Linked DNA regions of Homo sapiens. The protein of the gene in region 2 interacts with the protein of the main gene of each other region in a pairwise test. Each region holds a gene or a part of one and is shown on either strand. Other genes may lie near its edges.

Region 1 (3,122 bases), on a different chromosome or scaffold from region 2:
ACGTGGTCAGTTGGCATCTGCTGGTGGATGAGCTGCAGTCGTTTGAACCTTGCTCATCCTCATCGCGGGGCCAGTGCGTGTTTAGCCACTGTAGAAAAACAGCAGCTGTGGCGTGAGAGCAGAGTCCGTCCTCTCAGTGTAGGGCACGCGGCTTGTCCCTTGCCTGGCGCGGCCTGAGGTCCTGTTTGTAATTTGATATCTTATTGCCAGAGTCTGCTCTGTGGGTCTTACGGTCTCTATTTTAACTTTAGTGCTGGGTAGTGGTTGTGTCGAAACCCTAAAGGGAGGGGGTGTAACGAGGCGTGTCTGACCTCCCTTCCTGTCATGGCCAGGAACGCAGTTTTTCGGGGGTCCCCGTGGGCAAGATGGGATCCATTTAGTCAGTTGAGGGGCTTAGGATTTTATGTTTCGTTTACACTGGCAATGGGTTTGCAGTGAGATCAACTTCTCATGGACCCATTTTGTGTCTTCTGTGCGGGTTCTTTGGACAGATGTCCCTTAATTTTAAGGTGGTGACACTAAGAGGCCTGGCACAGGGCTTGGAAGACAGGGCTGGGAAATGGGCCCAGCAGGAGGCTGGGTGGGGGCTGACGGGCAGCCTCGGAGAAGCAGAGCACACAGAGGAGCCACCCCAGGCGGGGACGAGGGCTGCTGACCGCCCGCTGCTCAGCACGGTTACTCTGCAGGTTCAGAACCCAAAACCACAGCCCAGAAGGCTGTCATGCTGTCCAAGCAGGGAGGGGCCAAGCCCACCGTCCTTGCCCTGGAACACACAGGTCCTGCTGCCTCCAAAACACAAAGACGAGGTGGACACGAAACAGGGCCGGAGGTGAAGAGGCTGTGGGGATGAGAAGTCGTCCAGAGCTCAAAGCCAAGAGGTCTGGGCACAGTTACAGCTGCCCCCCACCCCCACCATGCCATGGCCCAGGGCAGGTCAATGAAGGCTCATGGGCCCCAGGTTGTCCCTCAGAAGATGGCCACAGTCCTGTGTCCGGTGATGGGGGAAGGACCACGCTGGATGAGGGGTTTTCACCACAAGGACACTTCCTGAGGCCGGCTTCCTGCAGAGGGACTCTGTGTCCCGGGGCTGCTGGGGCCAGGGGTGGACGATGCCGCGACCTGTGGCTCTCCCAGCTCCCCGAACCCAGCTGGGACCAGGCCCCGCCCAATTCCTGCCGCCAGGGATCCACATGGGATGGGACACAGCCCAGATGTGATGGGAGATTTATGAGCTGGCCCACATCACGGGCGAACAAACACCCCTAATCCCGGCAGACTCCAGCTCTCGGCAACACGGAAGGGGAAGCTGTGGGCCCGGGGACAACAAGGCCAGGTGGAATAAAAGCCCGAGAGCCTCAGCACCTCACAGGCTCACTCCCTCACCCTCCACCAGTTCAACCCCAGCATGGCCGCGTCCACCATGTCCGTCTGCTCCAGCGACCTGAGCTACGGCAGCCGCGTCTGCCTTCCTGGTTCCTGTGACTCTTGCTCCGACTCCTGGCAGGTGGACGACTGCCCAGAGAGCTGCTGTGAGCCCCCCTGCTGCGCCCCGGCCCCCTGCCTGAGCCTGGTCTGCACCCCAGTGAGCCGTGTGTCCAGCCCCTGCTGCCCAGTGACCTGTGAGCCCAGCCCCTGCCAATCAGGCTGCACCAGCTCCTGCACGCCCTCGTGCTGCCAGCAGTCTAGCTGCCAGCTGGCTTGCTGTGCCTCCTCCCCCTGCCAGCAGGCCTGCTGCGTGCCCGTCTGCTGCAAGACTGTCTGCTGCAAGCCTGTGTGCTGTGTGTCCGTCTGCTGTGGGGATTCTTCATGCTGCCAGCAGTCTAGCTGCCAGTCAGCTTGCTGCACCTCCTCCCCCTGCCAGCAGGCCTGCTGTGTGCCCGTCTGCTGCAAGCCTGTCTGCTCTGGGATTTCCTCTTCGTGCTGCCAGCAGTCTAGCTGTGTGAGCTGTGTGTCCAGCCCCTGCTGCCAGGCGGTCTGTGAGCCCAGCCCCTGCCAATCAGGCTGCACCAGCTCCTGCACACCCTCATGCTGCCAGCAGTCTAGCTGCCAGCCAACTTGCTGCACCTCCTCCCCCTGCCAGCAGGCCTGCTGCGTGCCCGTCTGCTGCGTGCCTGTGTGCTGTGTGCCCACCTGCTCTGAGGATTCCTCTTCATGCTGCCAGCAGTCTAGCTGCCAGCCAGCTTGCTGCACCTCCTCCCCCTGCCAGCACGCCTGCTGTGTGCCCGTCTGCTCTGGGGCTTCCACATCATGCTGCCAGCAGTCTAGCTGCCAGCCGGCTTGCTGCACCGCCTCCTGCTGCAGATCCTCCTCCTCCGTGTCCCTCCTCTGCCACCCTGTGTGCAAGTCCACCTGCTGCGTGCCCGTCCCCTCCTGTGGTGCCTCTGCCTCCTCCTGCCAGCCCAGCTGCTGCCGCACGGCCTCCTGTGTTTCCCTCCTCTGCCGCCCCATGTGCTCCCGCCCTGCCTGCTACAGCCTCTGCTCTGGCCAGAAGTCCAGCTGCTGACAGCCCTGGATGTGATCCGGAGTCCCTTCCCACCAGGGGCTGACCTCCCAGCTGCCCCAGCAAGCTCTGCCCTCTCTGGCTTTGACACCCTCAGAAGATGGGGCAGGCTCTTTGTCTTAGGGACCAGGATGCTCCCCCTGTCCTTCCCAGATGCTGGCTGCATGAGAGACCCCAGCTACTCCCCCAGACCCAAGTTCTGCAGAACTAACCCCCAGCAGGCCTGGTTCCACCCTGGGCAGCACCCCCTCTAGTTCTAATAAAGCCGCCTCTGTCTCACACCAACCTCTGTCCTGTCTGTGGACCCCCGGGGGGCACAGGGTGAGGTGGGAAGTGATGCCACCCCTGACTGCAGGGAGAGTCCTGACCCCCAGCAGGCCTGGCTCCACCCCTCTGTCTCTGTCGACTTTTCATCCTGTCTGTGGACCCCCGAGGGGCATGGGATGAGGCAGGAAGCAATGCCTTCTGGTGCTGGCCTCTGTGAACCCTGAAGGCCAGTCTCCCTCTTAGCCCCGTGGGCCCCCAACCCCAGCACATGGCCCCCCGGCCCATCTTAGGAAAGCTGCCTCTGGAACCAAGGCCAGGAGTTTCGGGACAAAGTGGACCCTGGCAGCACTCTGGG
Region 2 (4,085 bases):
ACCCAAGGAAGCAGGGGTGGGGCCACTGTCTGGGGGGCCAGAGACCACCTTTGGTGTCATTGTGTGGTGCAGTCCTTCGGCTGGGTGGAGTGGGAGGCAGAGGGAGAGGATAAGGGAGCGTCCCAGGGGAGGGCTGGGGCTGGAGGAGGCAGGGGCTGGGCTGAGCGGGAGTGGGCAGCGCTGTGTCCTGGCCTGGGGAGCATGGCTGAGCACCTACTACATGCAGACACTGCTGGGGGGTCACTCAATCTGCACAGATGCTCTTCTGAAGTAGGCATGATAGTCCCCATTTGATAGACGTGGAAACCTGCAACCCAAAAACCTGCTGAGCTGACAAGAAACCCCCTCAGAGGCCTCGGCAGCCAGAAAAATGCGTTGGGTCCAGTGCCCTCAAGTCCGCCAAGGACAGGGCTGGCTTTAGAGACTCACAAACTTGGGAGATAGGACTGGCCAAGGGCACCTGGTTTTTTTCGCTCTGGAGATGGTTCTTAACCACAGGCCACACACACTTCACAGCCTCATCTGGCCCTCGGGAGCCCCAGAGGGCACAGCTCTGGGCAGGAGACACAGCAGGTGGGCCCCTCCCTTGGCAGGGCGGGCTCGAATCAGGCAGGGTGCTCCTAGCCTTGTCACCGGACACCGAAGGGCGTCACGGGCAGTGGCTGGCGGTGTCCTTCTGAGCTAAGCTGGGTCCTGACCTTTCACACTTCCCTCCTAACTTCCATGGCTCTGTCACCGCCTTACGGAGGAGCTGAAGCCACAGACACAGCAAGGTTGGGGTCCGCACCGGAAGTATCCAGTGGTAGACGGCGGAACCCTTAAGAAACGGACGCCTTCATGCGGGCGGCTGGAGAAGCGGGGGCTGGGCACTGCAGCAACCACGCTTCGGCTGACACCAGGAAGGAAGCACGCCTGGAGCGGATCCGAAACTACTGAGAGGGGCCAGGGCTGGCCGTGGGCGCAGGCCGATCCTTACATTCGAGGCCGGCCCAGCTCTGTAGCTTCCCCCTCTGGGCCTCTCACCCGCGCAGGACCTCGGTGGGAGCGCGCACGTGGCGGGGCGGGGGGCCGCGGGCCCGAGCCCGGACTGGCCACCGGGGGCGCCCGCGAGCTGACGCTCTGGCCCGTTGCGGTCTCTGTGGCCCGCGCGACCTTCCGGCCCTGGAGCCGGTGGCCGCGGGGCTCCAGCGACGCCGTGTGGTCCGTGCTCCGCTCTGTGGCTCCAGGGGGCCGAGAAACTGCTGAGAGTCCGGCCCGGCCGGCAGTGCTGGGCGCGGGCCGAGGGCCCCGGGAGGCAGCGGCCCCGCCCTCTTTACCTGCGGCCTCGCAGAGCATGCTGGGAGCCGCGGGAGGCAGTGGCCCCGCTCCCCTCACCTGCGGTATCGCAGAGCATGGTGGGAGCCCCGGGAGGCAGTGGCCCCGCCCCCTTCCCTGCGGCCGCGCAGAGCATGCCGGGAGCCGCCGGCCGCCGGTGTCCGGACCGCTCGCCCCCGTTTGGACCCGACTTCGGTTCTTCTGGGGTGTTGATGCTCCTAAAGCCCGAGAGCACGTGTCCAGACCCTAGCCTGTACGACGCTGACTCTGCCCGGTCCCAGAACCAAAGCCATGCCGGGGTGTGGCCTCTGACCCCACGCGGAGGGGACCTCGCCTTGCGGGACCCCACCTGGAACCCGACCTCCCAGCCTCGCAGCCGGCCTGAGCCGCCATGCGCGGGAAGTTGCTGCCGCTGGCCGGCCTCTACCTGGTGCAGGGCCTGCCCTACGGGCTCCAGTCCGGCCTCCTGCCAGTGCTGCTGCGTGCCGGCGGCCTCTCGCTGACGCGCGTGGGGCTGGCCAAGGTTCTGTACGCTCCGTGGCTGCTCAAGCTGGCTTGGGCCCCGCTGGTGGACGCGCAGGGCTCGGCGAGGGCCTGGGTGACGCGCAGCACGGCGGGCCTGGGCCTGGTGTGTGGGCTGCTTGCCGGGCTGCCCCCTCCTGGAGCTGGCCAGGCCGGGCTGCCCGCCGCTGTGGCGGGGTTGCTGCTGTTGTTGAACCTGGGTGCCGCCATGCAGGATGTGGCCCTGGACGCGCTGGCTGTGCAGCTGCTGGAGCCGGCCGAACTGGGGCCGGGCAATACCGTGCAGGTGGTCGCGTACAAGCTGGGGGCCGCGCTAGCTGGGGGCGCGCTGCTGGCGCTGCTGCCCACCTTCTCGTGGCCGCAACTCTTTCTGCTCCTGGCTGCCACCTACTGGCTGGCCGCGGCCCTGGCCTGGGCTGCACCAGCCCTGCGGCGGCTCCCACAGCAGCCCCCTTCCGAGCAGCGTCCCCACACCGCGCACCTTCTGCGGGACGTGCTAGCCGTGCCGGGGACCGTGTGGACGGCAGGCTTTGTGCTCACCTACAAGCTGGGTGAGTGAGGCCTCGAGCCAGGCAACAGCAGTTGGGGCTTCCGGGACAGCTCCAGGTGTGTCCCCAGGGGCTTGCAACCCATTACAGGGCCACGCTCTTTCTGGGGTATGACCTGCAAGACTTGGCCCTGACATCCGGGGCTCTGCAGCTGGGCCTTGTGTCTTGTCCGCCCCCAGCTCTAGCCCCATCCCTGAGCGCTCTCTCGGGCTGCCCCACTTCTCCCCCAGTATCTGCAGCTCTGGAACACTGAGGAGAGCAGGGCAGGACTGAGGGCCCAGGTGGGGAGAAGGGAGGTGGGGGCAGATATGGAACCTCCCGTGCTCATGCCCCCCCCACCACCCAAGGTGAGCAGGGTGCCAGCAGCCTGTTTCCTCTTCTCCTGCTGGACCACGGCGTTTCTGCTCCCGAGTTGGGACTGTGGAATGGTGTGGGTGCTGTGGTCTGCTCCATCGCTGGCTCCTCCCTGGGTGGGACCTTGCTGGCCAAGCACTGGTGAGCCCTCCCCAGTGTACCCTGCCCACCCACTTGTACCTGAGCTGCCCCCAATCCACTATACTGACCCATTTCCCACCCCCATCCCAGGAAACTGCTGCCTCTGTTGAGGTCGGTGCTGCGCTTCCGCCTCGGGGGCCTAGCCTGTCAGACTGCCTTGGTCTTCCACCTGGACACCCTGGGGGCCAGCATGGACGCTGGCACAATCTTGAGAGGTGAGGGGCTGGCCTTGAGGAGGAAGAGAGGGGCCAGGAGCCTGGGGCACTGCTGACTTCTGCCCTCCCAGGGTCAGCCTTGCTGAGCCTATGTCTGCAGCACTTCTTGGGAGGCCTGGTCACCACAGTCACCTTCACTGGGATGATGCGCTGCAGCCAGCTGGCCCCCAGGGCCCTGCAGGTGAGTAGATGTAGCAGGGACACAAGAGAGACCACGGGGCTGGGGCTGTGTGGGCCTGACCTTGACCGTGACCCCCACCCCCCTCAGGCCACACACTACAGCCTTCTGGCCACGCTGGAGCTGCTGGGGAAGCTGCTGCTGGGCACTCTGGCCGGAGGCCTGGCTGATGGGTTGGGGCCACATCCCTGCTTCTTGCTCCTGCTCATCCTCTCTGCCTTTCCCGTTCTGTACCTGGACCTAGCACCCAGCACCTTTCTCTGAGCTGAGTGGCTGGAGTGGTCAATAAAGCCACATGTGCCTGTGGCCCAGATGTCTCTGTGCCTGGAATATGTGATGTGCTTGTCCCCAGCTTGTGGGGGTTGCCTCATTGGCCAAGAGGGCCCATAAAAACAAAGTGAGCATTTTTTATTCTGCATTTTGGAGCCTCCTCGTTCCCACACCCTGTGGCAGGTTTTGCCCAGGTCCTCAGTCACTGCCCTAGCCTCTGACAACCCCAGCTCTACCCGACATCCCCCAATGCAGTGCAGTCAGCGGGCCACCTGCAGGAGCTCTTCCGTGGCCAGGCCCACCAGGGCATGGAAGCTCAGGTGCAGGTATTTTCTCCAGAAGCGTCGGTCCTGCCCGTACACCTGGGCCGGGTAGCAGGGGCTTCCTACGGTGGAGCCAAGACACAGCCGTGAGCCCCAGCCCCAGCCTGCAGCGGGTGGAGCCTCCCAGGCCTCACCTGCCCCAGCCCCCAGCCCCAGCCTGCAGCGGGTGGGGCCTCCCAGGCCTCACCGATGCCGTGGAAGATGCGGGCCACAGCCCTGC

The links.
Region 1: the proteins of SLC33A2 (region 2) and KRTAP10-6 interact in binary tests that used the Homo sapiens proteins (3 or more experiments, as listed by UniProt).

Annotation. Positions count from the first base shown.
Region 1 is NC_000021.9:44,590,768-44,593,889, reverse strand, and holds KRTAP10-6 (keratin-associated protein 10-6), read left to right. Parts: upstream 1-1,384; 5' UTR 1,385-1,405; coding exon 1,406-2,503; 3' UTR 2,504-2,622; downstream 2,623-3,122. UniProt on the Homo sapiens protein: In the hair cortex, hair keratin intermediate filaments are embedded in an interfilamentous matrix, consisting of hair keratin-associated proteins (KRTAP), which are essential for the formation of a rigid and resistant hair shaft through their extensive disulfide bond cross-linking with abundant cysteine residues of hair keratins.
Region 2 is NC_000008.11:144,507,629-144,511,713, forward strand, and holds SLC33A2 (major facilitator superfamily domain-containing protein 3), read left to right. Parts: upstream 1-1,441; 5' UTR 1,442-1,705; coding exon 1,706-2,387; intron 2,388-2,731; coding exon 2,732-2,879; intron 2,880-2,969; coding exon 2,970-3,094; intron 3,095-3,165; coding exon 3,166-3,275; coding exon of another isoform or gene 3,276-3,362; coding exon 3,363-3,536; 3' UTR 3,537-3,585; downstream 3,586-4,085. Other genes in the region: RECQL4 (ATP-dependent DNA helicase Q4), read right to left, coding at 3,803-3,927, 4,053-4,085.